3 linked regions of the Homo sapiens genome follow. The protein of the gene in region 3 purifies or fractionates together with the protein of the main gene of each other region. This does not show direct contact. Each region holds a gene or a part of one and is shown on either strand. Other genes may lie near its edges. The genes, in order: ESF1, DDX46 and TCEAL7.

Region 1 (2,703 bases), on a different chromosome or scaffold from region 3:
TTACTGCGCTGGCCACTGCACACAGTGAGTGTGACCCACTGTGACATGAACCTGCTATTCAAGCATACCTTTGCTGGTCTGAGGATCACTACATGTGATTCTAACATTAAAAACTACACATTTTTGGTACAATATGGCTACCAAAATACAAGTCAACTATTTCACCTGGTGCTCAACCAAAGAAACAATGATTTCATCCACCCTAGGATGAACTGGCTGTGCTGGATTAAAAGACAGTAGCCTTTGGCTCCACCATCAGTCTTTCTGAAGACATTTTCTTTTTTTTTCTTTTTTTTTTTTTTTTGAGACAGGGTCTTGTTCTGTTGCCCAGGCTGGAGTGCAGTGCCACAATCATGGCTCACTGCAGGCTTGACCTCCTGGACTCAAGCGATCCTCCCACCTCAGCCTCCTGAGTAGCTGGGACTACAGGTGTGCGCCACTATACCTGGATTTTTTTTTTTTTTTTTTTTTTTTTTTTTTTTAGACAGAGTCTTGCTCTGTCACCTGGGCTGGAGTGCAGTGGCGAGATCTCGGCTCACTGCAAGCTCCGCCTCCTGGGTTCACGCCATTCTCCTGCCTCAGCCTCCTGAGTAGCTGTGACTACAGGTGCCCGCCACCACGCCTGGCTAATTTTTTGTATTTTTAGTAGAGATGGGGTTTCACCGTGTTAGCCAGGATGGTCTTGACCTCCTGACCTCGTGATCTGCCCACATCAGCCTCCCAAAGTGCTGAGATTACAGGCATGAGCCACCACGCCCAGCCAGCTAATTTTTTTTATTTTTCATAGAGATGAGGGTCCCACTATGTTGCCCAGGCTGGTCTCCAACTCCTGGACTCAAGTGATCCTCATGCCTCGGCCTCCAAAAAAGTGTTGGGATTATAGGCGTGAGCCACTGCACCGGGCCCCTAAGACATTTTCAAGGGTAACTTTGACTATGCTCAATTTCTATCTGCAGAGCTGACTTTAGATTCAATTCCAGCTTTAAGAGGCTATGCCTGGTGTCTATGGTTACCTCAAAGTCATCCTCTATTAATTCCTTCTTTTTCATGAGCTGCTTTTTCTTCTTTTTGCTCAGATTCTGGTGCTCCACAATCTTGTTGTAATTGAAGTGTTTCTTACTGTCCTCGTCCTCATCCATCATAAGCAAAGCCATTTCAGCCTGTAGAGAGCAAAAAAAAGTTCAAATGTACAACAGTGCTTTTTTTTCCACCCCCAAAAAGGAGTATAGGGCAGAAGATATCTCTTCTAGAAAGGAAGACTCAATCACTAGAACTCTGGGGTACCACCTGTTGTCTGTAAACTGACTGTGGATTACCAAAACAAAGAGATCTTTGTATAGCAATAAGGTAGAATCTCTGGAAGCAACATTACTGAGAGCAGGAGAGGTAAAACCTTGTAGTTAAAAACCAGGCCCCATTTCACTTAGTGTGACTCATTAGTAGGCTGCAGGAACAAGAGTCCCCAACTACCCTCAAATAAAAAGTTCTCATTTTCACTTTGTTCTTTTTGCGCAATGATGCTAAATCTAGCAAATGTTTATTTTGTGATGCAAATTATACTTTCTAAATGTGTAACTTTTAACAAGTAAGTTTTTTTTTTGCTTTTTTTTTTTTGGCCTTTACTGTTTCAATACTGATACATTTCTATGAAGGTAGGACCTTAGGATCTGCTTCTGAAATCTAGTAAATGTCTTTTTACACTAAACGGGTATTTTCTACCAGCCATGGGATTAAACGAGAACCCTCAAGAATCAAGTAAATAACCATGTACACTAGTAAAAATACAGAGTATGCTCTCGACCTTTGTGGATCTTCCTATATTACCACTTTAGACTGCCTTAATTTCCTTTTGTCACTGGCACTTTTAGCTGGCTTTTCAGAGACATTTTCCATAAAAATTGATTTTCTTTGTTGCTCTTTAGATAACTTTATGTGGCCAGTCAGGCACACTTCTGGACAGTGACATGAACATCAGCCCTAGGGGCACTGCTGCCTTCAATTCCTGCCTCAGCAAAATCACATATGACTCTGTGCCAAAATTACGTGTGACTCTGGACATAGGGGGTCACTGAAGCATAAGGTTCACTGCATTTCCAAGAATGTAATTTTGTACGTTAAATATACATATTCACAATAAGAAAAACAGAAATTTGCATTTGACAAACCATAACCACAAACTGTATTCCAGGACAGATTCAGATTGAATTAAAACTTATGGCAATATTATTTTGAGGTTTTAAGGGTATTTTCTGCCTCAGGTATAGTAAGTGTTTTTAAAAGTGAGATAATTCCCTCTTAATTTATAAAAGAAAATAAATACCCTTGAATTTGAGGTTAATTTTAACTTTGTACAATTTGGAGAAATTATGTTTGGTAAAAAAAACACTGTATTTAGAAACTACACTGCTAAAATATTTAATTATGTCTCTTACAATTTAGTTATAAATGCCACTGCTAAAATAAGTTGTTTTTTAAAATTAGTGACATGTACAACTTCATTTAAATTGTACCTATGAATTATCCACTAAGCATGTAACAATAATCGTATTTTACCTTTTGTCTTTCTATTTCAATTTCTTCTTCTGGAGATGTGCCATCTTTTGCAGATTTTACCGATTTTTTATTTATACCTGGCACAACAAACCAACATAAGAGTGGTAAAAATTACAGGACTATCAGCAACATTCTGTTTATACTAGGAAC
Region 2 (3,656 bases), on a different chromosome or scaffold from region 3:
ACTGACTTAAATAAATGCAACTGGCTTCCTAACCAGTGAAAACAAAATACATACATAGGAAATTCCTTCTAAAATATTAACAGAAGCATTGCTATCAACTGTTGAATCAATCACCTGGCAAAAACACGTATAAAATAGTTATTTAAAAATAGACCACAATGACAGATAAGAGAAAAAGGTAAAATTAATCAAGATGAATTTCAGGAGGAGACTTAATCAATGCAGCATTGAGAAAAAAAAAAAGGGATTATTTAATCAGCATTCAAACCAAAACTTTCCATATGCTAGACAAGCACAATGACTTCTCAATTTCGATGTCACTTTGCCAACTTCATGTACAATTAGAATTAGAAATTCAAGCAGAATACTACTAGAAACATGCACTAACTCAGTTTTTAATACTCTATTATGTACACACTAAATATTGCAATGGAAACCTCTGAGAGCATTTTCTTCAAAAAATAAAAAGTGCCAAAATAAGTGCTATCTAATATTTAAGTATTCCACACTAGCATTTGTAGCCCCAATTAGTTTTGCAAGGTCGGGAACAGCATTAAATTACCTACCTTTGATGGTTTAAGTCTCGGAAGCCCAGTTCTATAAATCTTGAAGGGCCTTTCTCCACAGAAGTTAAATAATGTCAACAGTTTAGTAAGAGTTTTGATAGGGAATAATTTAACAAAGCATAACATTTGAGCTACAAACATGCAATATTTACAAAAGATAAAATTTCTTGAAGCTGCAATATCTTAATTTATGTAGTATCTAAGAAAATACTAGCTCATGTGGAGAAAAAGTCTAAATTTTGTAATAAAGAAAAAGCTACTACCCCACTCTTTTACTAAGCAAAGCCAGGCCAAAACTGGATTAAGAATCCAAGTTATGATCAGATGGAGTTACTTCTGAAAAAAAATTTTAAATTGCAAAAATATCATTAATGCTTGTAATAATCAACTTGTTACAATTATTATTTTTTTTTTTTGAGACGGAGTCTTACTCTGTCACCCAGGCTGGAGTACAGTGGTGCGATCTTGGCTCACTGCAAGCTCCGCCTCCCGGGTTCAAGCTATTCTCCTGCCTCAGCCTCCCAAGTAGCTGGGACTACAGGCTACAAATTTTAAGATACTGCAGCTTTAAGAAGAAATATAGAAACCCTTTGTTGGTTTCTTGCATCTGTTTTAACAAAAAAAAGTAAAGAATTCAAAAATAAAAGACACCAAAAAAATACCCCTGACTTACCACTGTTAGCGGCTAACATGTCAATCATTCGACCAGGTGTGCAAACAATAATTTCAGCACCTCTTTTCAGCTCAGCAATCTAATAAAAAAGATGAAACTTTATAGTCTATTACTAATGCTTACTTAAACACTAAAAAATACTGCATTTAGTTCTTGCCTAGTCTAATTAGAAGACTTCCAAGCTTCCTGCTTAATTATTTTGAATCTCGGGGCACTACTAAAGAAATAGCAACAACGTGACCACATAGTGCCATAAATTTGAAACAAATAAGAACTAGAGAATTCTGCAAATTTGATTTGCCACTATCCCTCAAAACCAAGAAATGAACTTAAGAAAGCAGTTTAAAAAAAAAAAGTGATAATCTCTTGAGCCCAGGAGTTCAAGGTTGGAGTGAGCTATGATCACATCCTTGCACTCCAGCCTGAGCAAGAGCAAGACCCTGCCTCAGAAAAAGAAATTTCTAAGTGACCACATAGACTAGTGTTTTTCAAATTGAGGGTTGCCACATTAGTGAATCATGAAATCACTTTAACAGTCATAATCAGCTTTTTTTTTTTTTTTTTTTGAGACAGGGTCTCACTCTGTTGCCCAGGCTCTGTTGCCCAGTGCAGCAGTGTCATCATAGGTCATTGCAGCCTAGATCCTGGGCTCAAGTGACCCTCCCATCTCAGCCCCTCCCCCCACCACCCCACACACCCTCCCAGTATCTAGGACTACAGGCACTCGCTAATTTATTTACTGTTTTAAGAGATGGGGTCTCACTACATTGCCCAGGCTGGTCACAAACTCCTGGACTCAAGTGATTCTTCCATTTCAGCCTCCCAAAATGCTGTGATGATTACAGGTATGAGCCATAGTGTTCAACCACAACCAGCATTTTTTAAATGAAATGGAATGGAAAATACCAGAAGTCCCTTAACATCATAAAACTTTTGTTTGGCATTTATATAAATACAACGTGCAGGCATGTACCATGTTATTTTGTAAGTGTATTTCTACAAACTACAGTCATGAAAAATCATAAAGATAAACTTAGAAAATGAAGTAATTTGAAGTAATTAAAATAGCACTGGAGTTAACAAAAGCAAATATTCTTGAAGTGTGTTCTTGTAACAATAGTCCTAAGAAACAGTTTTGTAGTTAAGTTCAGAAAACGTCACTTAATTTATCCCATTTATCTAGCAACACAATATACATTAGCTTATTAAGAACAAAGAAGTCTTACAGGAAAGAAAGTGGTTTTAACTTTTTATACTCCAACATTTCCAAAACTTATCCAATCACAGAACCTACTTTTTTGCCTTCTTCTAGTTAAGCAAAATATCTGAAAACTATTTCATTCTTTAGAAGACAGCTGAAGGGCTGGTCACAGTGGCTCACGTCTATACCTTTCGGAGGTGTTACAAAGGGAAGCCAAGGCAAGCAGATTGCTTGAGCCCAGGAATTCAAGACCAGCCTGGGCAACATGGCAAAACCTCGTCTCTACAAAAAAATACAAAAACTAGCCGGGTGTGGTAGCATGCGTCTGTGGTCCCAGATACTCAGGAGGCTCAAGAGGGAGGACGGCTTAAGCCCAGGAGGTCAAGGATGCAGTGAGCCAAGGTCACACCACTGCACTCCAGCCCGGGCAACAGAGTAAGATGCTGTCTCCAATAAAACAAAACCAAAAAACAACAACAACAACAACAACAAAACACCTCTGATATTAATGCATCCCAGTAATCACCATCACTTCCGCCACCCCCCAAGATGGAGTCTTGCTCTGTCTCCCAGGCTGGAGTGCAGTGGCGTGATCTCAGCTTACTGCAACCTCCGCCTCCCAGGTTCAAGTGATTCTCCTGCCTCAGCCTACCGAGTAGCTGATATTACAGGCAGGCGCCACCAAGCCAGGCTAATTTCTGTGTTTTCAGTAGAGACGGGGAGTCTCGCCATGTTGGCTAGGCTGGTCTTGAGCTCCTGACCTCATGATCCACCCGCTTCGGCCTCTCAAAGCGCTGGGATTACAGGCATGAGCCACCGTGCCTGGCCACCATCACTTTTTAAAGATGTCAGCATAGATTAGAGAAACAAATGCTCAGAGATCAGAGACCTAGGTTCCAGGACAAACTCTAGAACGTATTAACCTAATTGGTCAACTTAATAAATCTTTCTGAATATTTCCTCATATGTAAAATGAAAAAAAAAATCTGCTTTCTCAGGCAGGGGAAGAGGGAGGAGGGATAATCTATGTAAAAAGATTCAAAAATTCTAATCTAGCATTAACATAGTATGTTCTTTTTTGCCACAACTATATTGGGTCATAATTAACAAAAATTATATATATTTAAGGTGTACAACATGTTTGATATACATATACACTCTGAAATGATGAACACAATCAAGCTAACATATCACCTCATATAGTTACCAATATTTT
Region 3 (3,756 bases):
ATTTGTCCAATGCCATTCTTCTTACTAATATGCAAAGTCTTCAACACCCGAATCCTTCAGCCATTTTATAACTCTGAGTCTAACCATCTGCATGAAAAGCTGTTCACAGAGGATTCAGGAATTTTTCTCCCCACAAACGAATTTTTTGCCTCTATCACAACTAGTCATTCCTTAATAACTGTGACAATGATGCTCTACTGTTTTTAAGACTTTTTTCTGACCACTGAACTTTTTTCTGGAGTCATTTATATCAAACTGATTAGTGGTAACTTTATATTCATAATGAGCTGCAATCTTCCTAAAAACAACTTATGAGAAGTTTACACATCTCCCTTTCTATTGCATATATTTCAAGCTAACAAATCAAGAGCAAATCTACTTAGACAAGTACCCAAATCCTTAGCAACAAAAAGTTTAGTGTGTTGGGTGGCTAAATGTGACTAATTTTTGTTAGTACTACAAGTAGCTTTCAATACATCAGTATGGCTAAATAAGGTCATGGAAAACATAAATAGGATGGAGATGTCTAGGGAAAATGAAAAACTATTCTTTTCTGAATGAGAGTGTTGAAAAAAGTTGGGATATTAGGGGTACAGTATTGAAGAAAAAAGGGTTATGTGTATGGTATAAACTGGAAGAAAGAGGGCATGATACTGAGCTCAAACTAGTTAAAATTTGTGACTTACAGTTGCGATCTGGAAATCTAAGGGCAAGGTGCTGTAGGATTATGGTCTCAGTGACTCACCTAATGGAAGGACCTCACATGCCCGGGAGCCCCTCAAAAGAGTAGGTTCCAACTGACCTGTACATCTTAAACTTCAAAAAATATGTCTGCCTAAAGGGTCTATATTTATATTATGACTTCAGCAGCAGAAACAGGTGGCTGGCCTTTTTATCCTCCTATCTGGAATCTTTTTCCAAATGTACATATCTTTATCATATTTCTGATTATTAAAAGTATATAATAAGTTTATGGAAAAATTGGAAAAGAATAAGAAATTATCAAAACAAAAGTAAGAAGCACAATCCAAATCATTACCTCCTTTCCTAATTCACCCCATTCCCTCCAATCTGGTTTCAAGGATTGGACTCCAAGGGAAATGATGGCTATTAGTGGCTGAGAGGCGATTGGATGGAGGAGACTGCCACTTTTCTTTTCTTGTAGCTTAGAAAAGGATAAGTAATCCTCCCTCTCAGCACAACCACAAAAAAAGTAACAATGGTTAATATAACTTTGGGAAAATGCAGCCCCTCCCTGGTAATCAGAGAAAGGCAAATTCTGACCACAGGGAGAAGGCGCCACTTTTGACCTCTGGAATTAGCAAAGACAAAAATGAGTGACAGGGCCTGGTGTGGTGTGGGGTGGGAGGTTGGTAAGCCGGTCCACTTCTGCAGCGCTGCTGGTGGGAGGGGAAAGTGGGGACCAGAGATGGGGGATGACATAATCCTCACGTGATCAGGAGCTGACGTGAACCGAAGTCCTTATATTCCCGGGCTTCTTTCTCCTCTGGGTACCAGCTCCTTACTGCCCTGCAGACAAGCGTGCCGTGCGTGCTTGTGGCCAAGGGAAGGAAGAGGTAAATTCCTTAAATCCCAGCAGGTTGGAGTGAAGGAACCACTGGACCCCCGGGGTCAGTAGTGGGTGAATCTAATGACTGGAATAGGTCCAGACTTGCTTTCCCAAAACCGCTGCAAAATCGTCGGAGATAATTGTATCTTTTGCAGGGGGAAGCAAGGGGGTAGGTCGAAATCTTTTGAGAGACACCTAGAGATTTAGTGACAGCTTTGAAATAATCGGCTTCTCTCACCCTGGCATGCTTTCTTTTTATCCTTCTCCTCATCTTTCTCCAATTTTGTTAAGAGAAAATTTTAGGCCTGGGGTATGTGTTGGTGTGTGGAGAAAGGCTGAAATCCCGGGATGGAGACAACAGAAATTTAGAGATCATTTGAAAATAGTTCACCTCACTCAATGCCGGCCTGTGGTGGTGGGGTGGGGCGCGGGACGGGGCGAAGGAGGGAGACGCGGGCCTTGCAAGGCCCAGGCCTGAGGGTGAGGAGTGGGGAGTGGAAACGGAAATCCTGAAGGAAAGGATACAGACAGGAAGGAGGGGCCAGGAGGTAGAAATCCGGGGGGCGATGACGGTGATGATGAGAATCCCAGGTTCAAAATAATAACGTCTGTCTTGTCTCTGGAGCTGGTTGATCCACAGATAGCTCCTTCCTCCCCGCCCCTTCCTTTTTGTTTGGAGGTCCCAGGATCTGTGTTCACAGACATCTGGGGGAAGAAAAGGAGCAGGAAACTACCCCGCACAGGTCAGTATGAGAGAGGCACTTAGACTGAGATCTCTGAGGATAGGAGTCGGGAAGGGGCAAAAGCTAGGCGAAATTTGCGGCTTCGCAGTCCATCTCCTTTTCTGCTCCGCCTCTCCTGCCTATTGGAGAGGCCATTAGCTTTGTCTGCTGGGGAAACGGTGGGTTCCTGAGGTGGGAGGGGAGAAAAGGGGGAGATGAGAGGGTGGAGGGAACTGCCGCAGACTTATGAGGTCTGGACCTGTGGGGCAGAGATGGGAAAGTATCTTGCCTCAGAGAGAAACTGACAATCGTGATTCAAAAGTAATGAAGCAATTTGTCTTTACATTTTCTCCCTAGAGTTAAGCAGGAAACAACAACAACATCATGCAAAAACCCTGCAAAGAAAACGAAGGAAAGCCAAAGTGCAGCGTGCCAAAGAGGGAGGAAAAACGCCCGTATGGAGAATTTGAACGCCAGCAAACAGAAGGGAATTTTAGACAGAGGCTGCTTCAGTCTCTCGAAGAATTTAAAGAGGACATAGACTATAGGCATTTTAAAGATGAAGAAATGACAAGGGAGGGAGATGAGATGGAAAGGTGTTTGGAAGAGATAAGGGGTCTGAGAAAGAAATTTAGGGCTCTGCATTCTAACCATAGGCATTCTCGGGACCGTCCTTATCCCATTTAATTAATTTCTCTGACAATTCAATTATTTTCTGTTATTAATGTTGCCACTGCTTTCTGTTTGTCTGCACTTTCTTGATAAATATTTGCTATCGTTTTACTCCAGTCATTCGATGTTGCTGAGATTTACATATGACTCTTGTCAACATCTCATCTTTTGACCCAATCTTATTCATTTAATAAGAGGTCTCATTCATTTGCATGGAAAAATGCTCATTGTATATTGCAAAGTGAAAATAACGAGTTGCAAAACAGTGTATACATATATGTGTGTATATATGTACACTTTATTTGTACATTTCTATGTGACATAATGCAAAGGAAAGTGTCTGATTTTATTATACACCAAAGGTTAACAGTGAATCTCTGTGTGATCTCTTTTTTTTTCTTTTTGCCTATCTGCATCTTCTCACTTGCCAAAAAATGAATATATGTTTATGTGTGTATATTACTTGTGTCACAAAAAACCCTAAAGTAGACAGTAAAAGAACTTGTCAATCGCCTTTGGAAGGCAATGAAACACTTAATAAACTCTCAATAACAGAAGCGTAAAAATGAAATGTAAACCTCCAATTACCTCTGGATCTCTTAGCCAGAGTAATAAACTGGTAATTATTACAGATACACACGTTTAAGACTCAGTCTTTTCATAGGGAAAATATTTGCCTCACAGGGCTGCTGTGGGAAGGAAATGAGGCAGTAACCAGCTGTGCTCAGTGGGATCTTGTTCCCCACTGTGCATACAGAATCCCAACCCACTATAGAATACACCAATAACTTC

What was found.
Region 1: the proteins of TCEAL7 (region 3) and ESF1 purify together in Homo sapiens (affinity purification with mass spectrometry; one large-scale study listed by BioGRID and IntAct). This does not show direct contact.
Region 2: the proteins of TCEAL7 (region 3) and DDX46 purify together in Homo sapiens (affinity purification with mass spectrometry; one large-scale study listed by BioGRID and IntAct). This does not show direct contact.

Annotation. Positions count from the first base shown.
Region 1 is NC_000020.11:13,716,355-13,719,057, forward strand, and holds part of ESF1 (ESF1 homolog), read right to left. Parts: intron 2,631-2,703; coding exon 2,554-2,630; intron 1,161-2,553; coding exon 1,014-1,160; intron 1-1,013. UniProt on the Homo sapiens protein: May constitute a novel regulatory system for basal transcription. Negatively regulates ABT1.
Region 2 is NC_000005.10:134,786,175-134,789,830, reverse strand, and holds part of DDX46 (probable ATP-dependent RNA helicase DDX46), read right to left. Parts: intron 1,319-3,656; coding exon 1,240-1,318; intron 616-1,239; coding exon of another isoform or gene 563-615; exon of another isoform or gene 217-562; intron 1-216. UniProt on the Homo sapiens protein: Component of the 17S U2 SnRNP complex of the spliceosome, a large ribonucleoprotein complex that removes introns from transcribed pre-mRNAs.
Region 3 is NC_000023.11:103,328,728-103,332,483, forward strand, and holds TCEAL7 (transcription elongation factor A protein-like 7), read left to right. Parts: upstream 1-1,511; 5' UTR 1,512-1,577; intron 1,578-2,195; 5' UTR 2,196-2,313; intron 2,314-2,649; 5' UTR 2,650-2,676; coding exon 2,677-2,979; 3' UTR 2,980-3,599; downstream 3,600-3,756. UniProt on the Homo sapiens protein: Plays a role in the negative regulation of NF-kappa-B signaling at the basal level by modulating transcriptional activity of NF-kappa-B on its target gene promoters.